Linked DNA regions of Homo sapiens. The protein of the gene in region 3 purifies or fractionates together with the protein of the main gene of each other region. This does not show direct contact. Each region holds a gene or a part of one and is shown on either strand. Other genes may lie near its edges.

The links. The genes of interacting proteins can lie anywhere in the genome.
Region 1: the proteins of SLC35G1 (region 3) and ADCY9 purify together in Homo sapiens (affinity purification with mass spectrometry; one large-scale study listed by BioGRID and IntAct). This does not show direct contact.
Region 2: the proteins of SLC35G1 (region 3) and ANKRD44 purify together in Homo sapiens (affinity purification with mass spectrometry; one large-scale study listed by BioGRID and IntAct). This does not show direct contact.
Region 4: the proteins of SLC35G1 (region 3) and ENPP1 purify together in Homo sapiens (affinity purification with mass spectrometry; one large-scale study listed by BioGRID and IntAct). This does not show direct contact.

Annotation. Positions count from the first base shown.
Region 1 is NC_000016.10:3,962,153-3,966,442, forward strand, and holds the end of ADCY9 (adenylate cyclase type 9), read right to left. Parts: coding exon 3,623-4,290; 3' UTR 501-3,622; downstream 1-500. UniProt on the Homo sapiens protein: Adenylyl cyclase that catalyzes the formation of the signaling molecule cAMP in response to activation of G protein-coupled receptors.
Region 2 is NC_000002.12:197,006,781-197,010,280, reverse strand, and holds part of ANKRD44 (serine/threonine-protein phosphatase 6 regulatory ankyrin repeat subunit B), read left to right. Parts: intron 1-1,249; coding exon 1,250-1,337; intron 1,338-2,357; coding exon 2,358-2,475; intron 2,476-3,500. UniProt on the Homo sapiens protein: Putative regulatory subunit of protein phosphatase 6 (PP6) that may be involved in the recognition of phosphoprotein substrates.
Region 3 is NC_000010.11:93,896,978-93,900,477, forward strand, and holds part of SLC35G1 (solute carrier family 35 member G1), read left to right. Parts: intron 1-1,593; coding exon 1,594-1,774; intron 1,775-3,500. UniProt on the Homo sapiens protein: May play a role in intracellular calcium sensing and homeostasis. May act as a negative regulator of plasma membrane calcium-transporting ATPases preventing calcium efflux from the cell.
Region 4 is NC_000006.12:131,884,520-131,888,019, forward strand, and holds part of ENPP1 (ectonucleotide pyrophosphatase/phosphodiesterase family member 1), read left to right. Parts: intron 1-411; coding exon 412-544; intron 545-2,042; coding exon 2,043-2,205; intron 2,206-3,500. UniProt on the Homo sapiens protein: Nucleotide pyrophosphatase that generates diphosphate (PPi) and functions in bone mineralization and soft tissue calcification by regulating pyrophosphate levels.

The DNA of each region.
Region 1 (4,290 bases), on a different chromosome or scaffold from region 3:
AAAATGGCATGTGTGTTTTTCTGGGAAGAGGCTCTATGACTTTAAACAGATTCTGAAGGGGCTTTGTGACTTCCTCAAAACACCTGGGACCCCAGTGATCTGTGTACCTGCAATCACTCTTTCCTTTTCAGAAAACCTACTTTTTCCCCCTCAATTCCTTCTCTAAGGATGTTGCAGAAAACTATTTAGGAGGCCTGACAGGGAAAATCTCACAAGCAAAACTTGTCCTGCAACCTTACTTTTATTGTTTAAAAAATTCTGTGTAAAAATAAATACTTTTCAACTCAAGTTAACTGGAGCAAATAGATCCAATTAAAAAAATAACATAAACACAAACAGGGTTTTCTACTTGCCCTGTTTCTGAAGTCATGACGTGAAAGAAAGGCAAACCCACCCAGGTGAGCCACAGATCGCAGAAAACACGAGCTGTCCAAGGAAGACCGCCCTCCTCTCTGAAGCAGTGCTCATCTTTTCAATAAGAAAACACCAGGCATCATATATTTAAATTTTAGAATATTTTAATGTCCATTTCTTCAGTGAATGCATTTTGAAATTATTAGAATTAACAATTTAAAAAGAGCAGATAAAAGGATATATGGAAAATGCAAACAGTCGGTTCTTGCTAATTCAATTTCAGATTCTAGGCATGATGTGATTTTCCAAACAACCAATTAAAAAAAACTCCTTACCTCGAAAATCTAGAAATTCAAATGCAGACGTGTCTTTGGAAACTACAAATGATTACAGCCCATGTGACAGGAAGCACGCGGCCTTCGGCTCTCCGGATCGTGTGCAAATGTGCAGGGGGAGCCCCCGCGGGTGACGTCAGTGTGGATGAAGTCACGGGTGTGGCAGAGCCTGTGGGGCTCTCAAGCTATTCGAGGGTTTTGTAACTGATGCTCTACATTTGTTTGCATTGGATAAAATTGTGTGTGCTTGTTTACCATATATATATATATATATATATATATATATATATATATATATATATGGATATATAATTCGATCTGAGCTGGGACTGAGAAGAAAATAGCAATTGCAACTCAAAGCAACTATTTACACACATTCAATGCTGAAGTATTGCTTCCTGCCCTAAGTTCCTAAGAGGTATTGCCACCCTGAAGCACGACCCATGCCGTCAGCAGCCCTCGTGCCAGCTGCTTAGAAACTCGTGTCTCCAGCACGATGTGCTCGCTGCCAACAGACAAGAGATGCACGGCGTTTCCGCTGCAGAGATTCTGTGGTTCTGCACTGAGGTATGCATCGGAGCAGGGGACGGGGAGGACCCGAGGGGCTTCGTGGCCCAGAGAGAACGTCTGCACTGGCTGTTTAGGAAGGCTCAGGGTGTTTGAAAGACAACGTTAAGCTCTGGGTGAGTCTGCACGGGGCTGAACCAGACTCCACTTTGCAGCTCCTTGGTTTCCCGGGGTGAGGAATCACAAACACCTTTGTGGTTGGGGAAGGAAATGGGCTTGATGGGGAAGAAGTGTGTGCGGAGAACTTTGCGGAGCATGTTCTGAGCGAGACAGCAAGGTCGTGAGCAAACGCCCAGCCCCTCAAAGCTACACAGCCTGGAGGGGAAAGGGGAGGGGAGGACATTCAAATATACACCTTAATACTGATGCAGAAAGAGCTTCATGTGACCACAATCCCCACGAACAAGGAAAGCATCAGGTAGTGTTTTTTAAGGAAAAAAAAAAATCTGCGGTGTTTTATAATACATTCTTTAGAAGCAAGAGGTATTGTCACAACCACCCTTTCTTCGGTATTGGAAGACCAGCAAACTGACAGTCACACCTGACAGGAAACCTTACAGCTAATGGGGGGAGGTGCCCTGGACTCTCAGGACGCCGGGACCCTGGCTCTGGCTGTCCTGATGGGTGGCCATCCCAGGCACCGCCCCTGGAGAGGTGGCGGGTCAGAATTGTGACTTCTTCATGCCGGGGAGGGCAATCTGTATGTCTCTGGGGAGGAGTAGTGATGATGGGGACTGATGCGGTGTGAAAACGAGACAGTGAGATTTGACAGCGGAAAGCAAAATGCACAGGGACAACGGGCAAGACTGACAAGGAGTGCACCCTGGGCCTCATCAGCGTCCCGGGGTCCCCTGAAAGACTGGCTACAACTCCGACCGGACAACTCGGGCGAGCTCACTTCCACACAAACTTCAGACTCAATATGGCAAAACATAATCAGACAGGACCAGCAGCCAACTGCCCGGACGGAGCTCCCCCACACCACCCTCGGGATTCCGCCCCTAACAAACCCCGCGTTTGCATCCAGATGCCTCTGTCCCTAGATACGGTGTGAGAACTCCATTTCAGAGCTGGAATTTGCTCCCCAGATTAAATCCTGCCACTGATAGGCCCTGTGCCATCTGAGAGCGGGAGGCAGCCAAGAAACTTCTGGAATTTGTGGAAGCCAAGATGGCACCGGTGCTGCCGGCACAGACCCCCGTGGTTCTGAGCTGGACCCCGGCAGGGAGGAGCCCCCGTGGGTGGCAGGGGCAGCTGGTGGGCTTCTCCTATTCCCCTAGCCTCAGAATTGCACTGGCCATGCTTTGAGGTCCCACTCAGACCCCTCTTGGGGTGGGGAGGTTGGGGGCGGCCCCAGGTGGCCAAAACACAAAAGAGACATCTGGTTACCTTCCTGGGAACTGCCCTCCCCTGTGGCTATGACCCCCCACCCTGAGGACCCAGCACCCCTCCCGGGAGCGCACATGCTTCCGGGTAAATAAATAAATAAATAAATGCAACCTCGGATGTTTATTTGGTATTTCCCTCTCCGATGAGTCAGCTTCCAGGACCAACACCTCCACTCCCGATGGGGAGACCCCTGGGTGGAGGGTCGGGGGTGAGAGGCGGCTCTGAGACCCCCGAGGCCTGGGCACACGGGCGTCGTGCCCGGCTGGCATTTGCTGTCTTGGCCTGCATGCATGTGGGCGAGCCCCTAAACCCGCTCAGTGCAGGGAGCGCGGCTCACCCACAGCCCACGGGGCGCGGTGCTCGGGAAAGTGCGGGTGGGCAATGGGGGGTGGCGGAGCTGTCGTGACATGCCCCCTTCGCACCCCCTCTTGGCGGATTACTGGCACTTTATATCAGATTCATGAATGCAAGTGTGTGTGCGCATGTGTGCTTACATAGAGAGGTCGGGTCGTAGAGGAACACTGTGACATAGACAGAAACAAAATAAACTCAAAAACAGGGTATTAGCCAGAGAACCGAAAATAGTGTCTCGTGGGACGTGGGAAAAAGCAATAAAAATGAGATCTTAACCACAGCTTTTGTTCTAAAAGTCAAATAATACCCAAAGCCATGATCTCCACTGGCGGCCTCTGTCCCGAGACTCGAGGCCGAGGCCAGCCCTGAAGGCACTTGTTCTCCACCACGTGCTGAACGGATGACCCAGAGGCAGCGGGGTTTCCAGGGAAGGGAGCGAAAGGGAAGAATGGATGAAAATGAACCCTGAATAACTGTGATCCACACAGAAGTTAGGGCTGAAATGACCACATAACACCACGTCCGGGGAGGGCAACTGTGGCGCTTGGAAAGCACAACAGCCAAATACAAATATTACTGTGTTTCGACAAACAGAGCACCTCGGGCAGCGGGTGGGCGCCGCCTCACACACTCTTTGAAACGTTGAGCTTGGTGAGTTCGTTGGCTTCTTCTATTCCTGTTTCGTCACAGTCGTCTTTCTCTATGGCTTTGCCAAATCGACCCCTTTCTTCGGCTTTGACGGGCTCCTTCCACGGTCTCTTGGGGGACAGGTGGGCATCCTTGGCCTGCGTGCTGCTGTCAGAACCCAGAGATGTCTTGTCCACATACTGGACAGAAGGCACCAGGTTGGCAATCTCGTCTGTGGGAGACCGTCCGATGCTGCCATCCACCTGGACGCGGATGTCTGGGGAGATGGACAGCTGGTGCTGTGGGATGACCCTGTGATCCGTGCACTTTGGGTACAGGTAGGTCTTCATCTGGCCTTTCCCCTTGACATTCACGGTCCCTCTGTAGTCGAAGTCATAGCCCATCTTGCTCAAGACGCGGTAGCTCTCTTCGCTCACCTGGATGCGGCACTCCACGCCGGTGGTGTCCATCCTGCTGGCGATGTTGACGGTGTCTCCCCAGATGTCGTACAGCAGCTTGGTGGTGCCGATGACCCCGGCCGTGAGGGGCCCATGGTTGAAGCCGACGCGGAGCTTGAAGTTGAACCACAGCATGTTGTTGTTGAAGTCGTCCACCACGCGCATCATCTCCTTGGCGAACTCGAACAGGATCTGCAGGTGCTCCT
Region 2 (3,500 bases), on a different chromosome or scaffold from region 3:
ACTCAACAGTGAGCGGATGGAGCGTGCACACCCAGCCGGCGTGAGGTTTTGTTTTCTGCCACCACCCATCAGTCAGAGCTATTGCAGGAATACCTCTTCTGAATATCTACCTCAGAATGTAAAACGACCTGGGAGAAGAGGCGGCCCCAGGTCCCTACTCCCTTCCCTTCTGACCGTCTCCCCTCTCCCCTCCACTTCTCTCCTTCCTTCCTCGCCTTCCTCCTCCTCCTCCATCCTGCTCCTGCTCCCCTCACACTTCCACTCCCTTCTCTCCCTTCTTCCTTCTTTTTAAAGGGGTTGGAGGCAGGGTAGATACAGTATGATTATATGGAATTGGGTGACTCAGAGGAACAAAAAGGGGAGCTGACTAGTGGGGAGAGATTATTAGTCCCATGACAGGAGATAAGAAAGGACCCCAAGTGTAAGAAAAAACCCTCAACACAGGAACTAGAAAAGGAAGGTGGGGATCAATGCACCCTGCTAGGAAGAAGGGGGAAGACAGATTAACACAGAGGCACTCTGCCTGGAAACTACCTTGAGCTGGAAGCCGAGGGGGATCCAGCGGCAACAATGGAAAACCACTGATTTGAAGTCCAAATAAATGTCACTTGGGGCCAGGCACGGTGGCTCATGCCTGTAATCCCAGCACTTTGGGAGGCCAAGGCAGTCAGATTGCTTGAGCCCAGAAGTTCAAGACCAGCCTAGGCAACATGGTGAAACCCCATCTCTACTAAAAATGCAAAAATTAGCGGGTGTGGTGGTGCATGCCTATAATCCCAGCTACTCGGGAGGCAGAATAATCACTTGAACTCGGGAGGCGGAGGTTGCAGTGAGCCAAGATCATATCATTGCACTCCAGCCTGGACGACAGAGTGAGATTCTGTCTCAGAAGGTCACTTGGTGGCTCATGCCTGTAATCCCAGCACTTTGGGAGGCCGAGGCTGGCGGATCACCTGGGGCTAGGAATTCGAGACCAGCCTGGCCAAGATGGTGAGACCCTGTCTCTACTAAAAATGCAAAAATTAGCCAGGCATGGTGGTGCATGCCTGTAATCCCAGCTACTCAGGAGGCTGAGGCAGGAGAATAGCTTGAACCTGGGAGGTGGAGATTGCAATGAGATGACATCGCCCCACTGCACTCCAGCCTGGCGACAGAGCAAGACTCCATCTCAAAAAAAAGAAAAAGTCATTTGGAAGAGATATGTGTAGTGTTGTTCTGTTAAAAGACTGTCCACTGTTTTCTTTTTCAGTAATTAATGGTCACACACTGTGTTTACGGCTGTTGCTAGAAATTGCAGACAACCCGGAGGCGGTCGATGTGAAAGATGCCAAAGGACAGTAAGTGCGCTCACACGTGGCCTTGGGTTGACATTTCAATCACAGCAGCTACCTGGTTGGTTTCTTAAATCATTACAAGGCTGACTGCGGAACCGAGAAATTGGAGGAATATATTTGGACCAGGACCAATACACAATGAGGTGGCTTTAAGTCACAGTGCGTATATCCAAGAAAAGCATGAAGGAGTGGGTGTGCACATGTCTTGATGAAAGGATCACCTTTTTAAGGGCTGTGGCCATGTTTCCCGGCTCTTATTTATATTCTCTCCTTTGTTCCCTCTTTCCGCCCATTTTTACCTTCTTCTGAAGCTGCTACACCATTGCCATTTTCTAATTAATAAATAGGACAGACCTCATGAGGTTATCTCTATTATTAAAATCCTTCAGATGCCTTTTCTTCCTCAACTTTGCTTTTTCAAAGTAATTTCCTTCTGTTGGCATATTCCCCACCTAATCTTCTCTTACAAATAGGAAATGCAGAGCAAAAGTCAGCAGTGACTAGCCCCAGGCATGTGAATCAGTGTGATAGTCAGAATCTCACCTCCCTCTTGCATCACAACACTTCATTCTTTCCCGGAGACTTGACAGACTTTTCTTTAGGGAAAGAAGCTTTGTGTAAATGAAATCTTTAGCAGAAGTCCAACATAGAATACTACAAAGTAGAGCTGCTCTGATGGAAGCAAGAGGGGCTTCTGCATACACATACTCCCCGCCCTTGATATCTAGTAAATGCTACATGGATCTGAAAATGATGGGATTAACATGAATATTTTGAAAAGGAAGCTTCCCCTGCCTCATCCCTAGGGATCATTCCACTAACAACATTCCATGTGGCCATTAGAGCAGAGGCAGATAGCTTGTTCTGCATATTGTATAGCAAACTGGGGACACTTAGAAAATATTAAGAAATTGTCAAAAGGAGAGGGGAAGAGAATGGGAGAAAGAGAATGTCTTCCTACTGGTAGTGATGAATATTTTTTTAAATCTCCTTTTTAAAAGCCTGCTTTATCTCTCTGCCTAGAACACCACTGATGCTTGCAGTAGCATATGGACATATTGACGCTGTTTCATTGTTACTTGAAAAGGAAGCCAACGTAGACACTGTTGACATCCTAGGATGCACAGCTTTACACAGAGGGGTATGTACATCTTTCTCAGCTCTAGTCAAGCAATTTTTTTAATGAGCTTGTTTTCTTTTTTAGCAAACAATTACAAAGGGCCTACTTTGATTGGATTTTTAGCAAAAAATGTTTAGCAAAAATTGTTTCCTAATACAACCAATTAACCTTATTCAGTCCAAAAGAAATTACAAAATCCTTGGCAAAGGCAAAATAATGGAAGGTTTTGCTCTTAAGATTTCATGTTAGATTGTGATAATAGATGCATGAACACCTACTGCTGGTGAAATTGGTTCTGCTTTCTGACTACAAAATACAAGTATATCATAGAAAATTTGCAGAATATTTTTTTTTAAAGCCCAGAGAAGAAAATCACAATCACCAGTAATCATACCTCCTGGAGATAACCACTATTTGATGTATATTATCTCCAATCTTTTTTCTATATATAGATTTGTTTTAGATTTTAAAAAGAGAATACTGAAGATATCATTTGGATTCTGCTTTTTTCTCTTAGTATATCAAGGATCTTTTTTCATTTCATTTTTTTCTGCATCATGATTTTTAATGCCTCATTGTGTTCAAGTGTCATAGTTTATTTCAATGATTACCTGGTTTTCAGTAGTTATGCAATTTCTAATTGTTTGTCCTTACAAATAATGCCAAAATATGTATCCTGTGGGCAATTATTTGCACACATCTGTTGAAGTGTTTGGTTTTTTTTTTTTAATCTCACTCTTATCACCCAGGCTGGAGTGTAGTGGCACAATCTCAGCTCACTGCAACCTCCACCTCCCAGGCTCAATGATCCTCCCACCTCAACTCCCCCCAGTAACTGGGACCACAGGTGCATGCCAGCATGCCCAGCTAATTTTTGTATTTTCTGTTGAGATGGGGTTTTGCCATGTTGCCCAGGCAGGTCTCAAACTGCTGGGCTCAAGTGATCCTCCTGCCTCCACCTCACAAAGTGCTGGGATTACAGGCATTAGCCACTTGCACCCTCTGAACTGTTTTTTAAAGCATGCCAAATAAACTAAGTAAACACA
Region 3 (3,500 bases):
AGACCCTAAGGCTGACCACAGCCAAGGCATGTATTTTGTGGTGCTTCACTTGGAAGTCTTCTAAAGCTTCCTTCTCGTGGGCTGCGTGTGTGCAGTTTATTTCTGCAGTATACAAGCACATGGATACAGAACAGAATGAGGATTCTGGCATCTTAAGGGAAGGACTACTGCTAGTTCCAAAGCAGTATCTTCAGCTGTGCACCTAGAACAGGAAGAGGTAGAGAAGGGTGCCTTTGACCACAAGGCCAGGCTGTAGAATGCCCCAGAAAGCCTGTGCATCAGCATACTTTGGTCCCAGTTTGCAAAGTCATCTCACTAACCTGAGGATGTGTAAATGTGTTACCTGGTGTTTACATTTATCAGAGAAGGGCATTTTAAAAAACATTACACAATACTGTTTTATAGCTATCACATTATAAAGTCCTAGATTGGAATGATAATACGAGTTTTCCTACAAGTTGCTCATATCCACTCACCCTTCAGTTCCACTGTGCTCTTAATCAATGAGGGCCACTTGTGTTTCCTTCTTACCCTCAACCCTGTTTTTGTGTTAATTTCAAAAAAGAATATATCCCGCAGTGTGTGACCTTTGTTTTAGGGCATTCTCTGCCCACCCTGCTGCTTTTGCTCTCTGAATGACAGAGGAGTAAGACTGAAAGCAGGTTCTACTCCTGTGTAGGAAACTAAGACATAGTAAGTGGCTAAACAAGTTTAAAGCTCACACAGATTGTCATTAATGACTGAATACTTGATGCCCTGGAGAAAGCACTGGTTTCCTCGTTCAGATCGAGCCAAGAGTAGGGATTAGATGGCAGTTCTGTACAAAGCACTTGGGATCCAAAGGGCTAGATAACCCACACCCTCCCCTTGAGGAGTTTGTGCTCTGAATGGGAAGATAAGTCGTGAAAGCATGAAAAGTTAAATATAGATTTGATTAACAGTTCAAAATAACAAAATGGAGAACCTTCCCAGATTATGCTGTTGCCGATAGTGTTAGACTCTTGAGTCTTTCCCTGAAGTTCTCTCATCTTTCATTCACTGAATATTTATCCAGTGTCTTCCATGTGCCAGGCATGTACAAGACAGCAAGATCCCAGCCCTGGAAGAGCTCACAGACTTGTGGGAGGAAGTCAAATAATCAACAGATAACTGTATAACCCAATTATAACCCATTTTCCAGAAAAGAACACTTTCTTCATAAAGCCAATTTCGCCAGTGAGGTGTGGCGTAAGATATCACTTGGAAGGATTTTTTACTTGCCATCTTGACAAGTGTTTCTTAAAGATTTCTCTCACCATCTTGGCAAGCGTTCTACTTCTTGACTTGTAAGTGAGGATGATTCTTCAGTGAGCCATAGGAAATCCATTTGATAGGGCGAAACGGCATTTTAAAAATGCAGGTTTAAATTGTTATCCTCATCTATGGTTCTTCATAATTGATGGGGAAAATGGTACAGGCCCAGAGAAATGATATGCTTAGGAGGTAATAAAGCCTGTTGACCTTTGACACTGTTCCATTTTTCTCAGTTTCTAAGTGAAAATGATAACACATACACTTGGAAGCAAGGACTAACCAGAATTTAATCTTTTTCAGAAGCCAAGAAGAAAGCACCCTGTCCTGGACTTGGCTTGTTTTACACATTATTGTCTGCCTTCCTTTTCTCAGTGGGCTCTTTATTTGTTAAAAAAGTGCAAGACGTCCATGCTGTAGAGATTAGTGCGTTTCGATGTGTGTTCCAAATGCTAGTTGTTATCCCTTGCTTAATATACAGAAAGTAAGTATTTTTTAACTGCAAAGTAGAAGATATTAATAAATGTGTGTATATCTTTTCACCTGCCTATAATTACTCTATCTGCTTTATCCATCTCATATACTTACCAGTTCCTATGCCCCTTGGCTCTGCTTAATGAAAAGTCATAAGCATCTACCCACAGAAGATTCTACCATGAGCATAAACCACATACCCAACAAAGTGGGGAGAAAGAAATTTTGTTTTTCACCACCTCCCCTTTTGAAAACAGAGCTTTCTTTGTATAATTCCTCTTGTCTTGTATCACCCTCCCTTCTTTCCTTTGGCATAACTACTGTTTGGAAGTTAAAAAAATGAATGAAAAGAAGTAATAGTGTATCCTAGTATCAGAAGTTTTTTTAGAATGGGCTGCTTTCTTACCAGGGCAAATAGAAGATTATAGTAATAATATTTAGGTATTCCTCAAAAGGTGATGGGGTAACCCTGAGCAAGGTTACTTTCGTATTTAGTTTCCTCTTTTGTAAACTAGAGGGAATGATACTGTGTGACTTCTGCCCTACAAGGTGATTCCAAGGGTCAAATAAGATTTATTATAGGGTGGAGTGCCTTGTGTAGAGTGTAACAGTATATGAAAATTGTCTCTATTCCGCCCTCTCTGTTCTCTCCCAACCCAATTCCTCTTTTCCTTCCCTGTTGAACTCCCTACCCTCCCTGGGTTAAAATTATGCCTCCTTCAACCATTGTAACCTCCATATACCTCAGTGTATTTAGAACCCTGAGAGCGAGACCAGTTGGGTCCTTGGTGGCTGCCTGGCTCTTTGTCTCTTTGGGCAAAAAAGGCTACACCCCAAATGAAAAGCTTTAGTCACTTGTCACCAAAGTCTCCTTGTATCTCTAACATGGTGCGGATTCACTTAGAATAGTTTCACTCCATATCCTGATGATTTGGTGGGAAAAGTGAAAACCTGCTAATACCTGCAAATTTCTGTCAATGCGGACAAGTCACACTATTTTAAGAAATGATGGTAGGGCTTTAGAAATTTCTAAGGGTAGCAGCAGAACACCGATGCTAACATAATCATCTCCCCCATTTTGAAATAAAGATATTGTCAGGGGAAGGACACTGGAAGAATGTTGTTAAAATCCTTGGTCCTCATCTGTTTTGACCCATTTTATGTTTTATTATCATGGAAGACTCTTTGCTTCTCAAAGTATGGGCCAAATGTGACCGTGCTTTCATTTTAACTCCAAGATACCCGGGGTAGCCTAGATGATAATCTAATGAAGTCTAGCCCTGGCACACGTCAGCAAGTTGCACCTAGCCAGGAACCTACACAGAGTGGGTACTTAGTAAATATTTATTGAAAAAGAATTTGAATAGCAGTAATCATACTTTTCCAAACACTACATGTTCTTTTTCAGTGTGTTTTGACTCTTTCCTCATGAGAACAATGAAAACTTGTCTCATATTCAATGACTAAAATAAATTTTAGCAGTTTCAAGTTTTATAGAAAAATTCATGAGATTGAGAATGAGCATTAGCTGGGTCTAAGTTTCCTTACACAGGGCAGCTGAATCTTGACATTGTATTTATCATAAAAGTGATATGTTTATAGAAAATTTGGAGAAAATAAATATAAAGAAAGAAAATTACCTATGAGTTTATCTATTAAGATATAAACATGATTAACATTTAGTTTATTTTCCTTTTTGTCCTTTTTGCAAGCATATATATACATATACGTGGGAT
Region 4 (3,500 bases), on a different chromosome or scaffold from region 3:
CAGCCCTTTGGGGAGTCCAACTCAGAAGGACTGCTTGAGGCCAGGAGTTCAAGATCAGCCTGGGAAACAGTGAGATCTGGTGTCTAGTCTCTACAAAAAATTTTAATTAGCTGGGCATGGTGATGTGCACCTGTAGTCCTAGCTATTCTGGAGACTGAGGCAGGAGCATCTCTTGACCCCAGGAGTTTGAGGCTGCAGTGAGCTATGATTGTGCCACTGCACTCCAGCCTGGGTGATATAGCACGACTCTGTCTCTAAACAAAAAACAAAACAAAACGAAGACTGAAGCCAAACTTGACTTTATCTTTATTTACTATAAATGCTAATTTTGAATCATGGTGTTAATTTATTTCACACGTCAACATGGTCCCTTGTTCTTTTGAAACTACACTGGCTTCTATCTTGTTTCAGTTATATGGCGCTACTTTCATGACACCCTACTGCGAAAGTATGCTGAAGAAAGAAATGGTGTCAATGTCGTCAGTGGTCCTGTGTTTGACTTTGATTATGATGGACGTTGTGATTCCTTAGAGAATCTGAGGCAGTAAGAACATATTTCATTACTCTTAAAAATAGGAATTACCATCCAGTAGAAATGGGATTACCATCCAGTTGAGTCAACAGAACCTTTTTTATCCAGTGTCGTATGTTTATGTGTATGACACTTCTGACTACACAGGAAGCCTCTTGAAATATCTGATTAATTTTGATGTTTTGCTCAATGTTCAGTAAAATATTTTTAGGTAAAAAAGTAGTGTTTCTCACCCATTCAGTTCAGTTGAATAATTTTTGCACTCAGTTTAAATGCTGAACTCATTTAAGATCTCTGTGTGGCTGATTGTTAAGATATGATCTTAATATATTGTGAGTCAGAAGATGAAGAACTCTATGGTGTGGCTACAGATATCCTGAGTCTAGGAATGAATAGGGTTATAAAGCTGCAGTGCTTGGAGTCTGGTGGCCTTGGGTGAATGTTATGGCTTTTACCCAACTGTGGCTGGAGGGGCATGATAAAAAGCAACCGTCTGAAGGAAACCATCAGTGGTGCTTTTTTAAAAAAGAGAGGGAAAGAACATCTTGGAAACTGGTTGATCTTTATTGAAACAATAATTACAGCAGTTTGGGAAGCAATTTTGCTGTTAAGTCCGTAGGAAAAAGACTGAGATTCCACTGAGATTCAGCCCCTCTCAGAACTTTCCTACTCTCCCAGGCTGACTTAGATATATGTGACTTACAAAATACATCAGAAAGCACATCAATTTGCAAAGTTACAGTTTTTTACTTTCCCTTGAGGCATAAAGCTGCCTTAGAAGCTGTAGCACTGGAGAGGATACAGAAGAGAACTGCATATGCTTCCTACCCACGGCTTCACCCAGAGCCCTCTGTTTAAATCTGTTTTATAGATTATGTTTCTACATAAGGTCATATTTGAAAACAATGATTCCACTGCCTTAAATTTTGAAAGATGTTGAAAAAACAAACACAGCCTTAAAATAGGAGAATGACTATGAGGTAAAGATGTTTGGGACATCTTTGATAATATACTTCAGTTTAAAAAATTAAGTTATTAAGGAAGAAAATCCAGTTAGAACAAACAATTCATGACAACATGTCCTCTCTGAAGGGGCTGGAATAGAAAATTCCTAACCAGTTCTTTCTCTGCCCACTATTTGTCTATAATCGCCTAGAAGTTAAGACTATCAATAATGGTTTACACTCTTGGTCATAGGTGTTCAAAAATGACATTTTCTTTTCTTTAGTGTTTCAATTTCAATGTCTTTAGGTAGAACTAAAAGAATTCTAAAAGTCAATAAACTTCTACAGAAAATAAAAATTATTTGGAGTGTGTTTATCTGCCTGTCTTCTAATTATTGCTCTCAATCTGGCAGAGTATGTTGAGGTATTGTGATTACTAGCTTCTTATATTTAATTATTTGTTTGAATTTGATTTTTATATGTATTAAAAGCATGCTCTACTGAAATATTCATCAAAAGGAAGATAGTTATTTCTTTCTTAAAATGAATATTGGCATGTTTTACAGAAAAAGAAGAGTCATCCGTAACCAAGAAATTTTGATTCCAACTCACTTCTTTATTGTGCTAACAAGCTGTAAAGATACATCTCAGACGCCTTTGCACTGTGAAAACCTAGACACCTTAGCTTTCATTTTGCCTCACAGGACTGATAACAGCGAGAGCTGTGTGGTAAGTAGCTTTTGTATATTTACTTTGCATGTTGAAAATCTAGACATATGCATATTTGTTTATGTCACCCATCTGACATTACAGTGAGAGAAAGCACAACTGAGTACACATGGACTTCGAAATTATAGGATGCTTTTAAATTTGATCTTTTAAGATGACATATCTTTGGGGAAGACTACCCTTGTCTGCTTTTACTTTTTTCTTTTTTTTTTTTTTTTTTTTAGAGATAGGGTCTTTCTATGTTGCCCAGGCTGGTCTTGAACTCCTGGCCTCTTATGATCCTCCTGTCTTGGCCTCCCAAAGTGCTGAGATTGCAGGTGTGAGCCACCCTGCCTGGCCCCTTTGTCTGGTAAAGATACTAAAAATCAGATCAGAATCAAACTTTGTATGGCTTAACCACTAAAGTCTAGGTTTATCTGAGGTATGGATTTTCTCTTTTTTTAAAACTGGATGTATAATTTCAAAGTGTCAGCACTGTTATAAATTAAAGTTGTTAGACAACATTTCAAATTTTCTGTGTATCACTTAATTATAAAAAATCTTTTCCTTTCTTATCGTATTGTCATCCCAGTGTGTTTGGGAATAATTGTTTTATATTATCTTATTTGCTCAGAATTTTAAAAATCTACATTGTAGATTGGGACATCAAGACTGCATAACATTTTAGCAATTTTTTTTTTTTTTTTGAGACAGAGTCTCACTTTGGCTCCCAGGCTGGAGTGCAGTGGCATGATCTCGGCTCACCGCAAGCTCCGCCTTCTGGGTTCACACCATTCTCCTGCCTCAGCCTCCCGAGTAGCTGGGACTACAGGCGCCCGCCACCACACCCAGCTAATTTTTTTTTTTTTTTTTGAGACAGAGTCTCACTTTGGCTTCCAGGCTGGAGTGCAGTGGCATGATCTCGGCTCACTGCAAGCTCCGCCTTCTGGGCTCACGCCATTCTCCTGCCTCAGCCTCCCGAGTAGCTGGGACTACAGGCGCCCGCCACCACACCCGGCTAATTTTTTTTTTTTTTTTTTTTTAGTAGAGATGGGGTTTCACCGTGTTAGCCAGGATGGTCTCAATCTCCTGACCTTGTGATCCACCCGCCTTGTCCTTCCAAAATGCTGGGATTACAGGCGTGAGCCACCGTGCCTGGCCTTTTTTTTTTTTTTTTTTTGGAGTCTTGCTCTGTCACCCAGGCTGGAAGGCAGTGGCGTGATCTCGGCTCCCTGCAACCTCCGCTTCCCGGGCTCAAGCGATTCTCCTGCCTCAGCCTCCCGAATAGCTGGGATTACAGGCACCTGCCACCCATG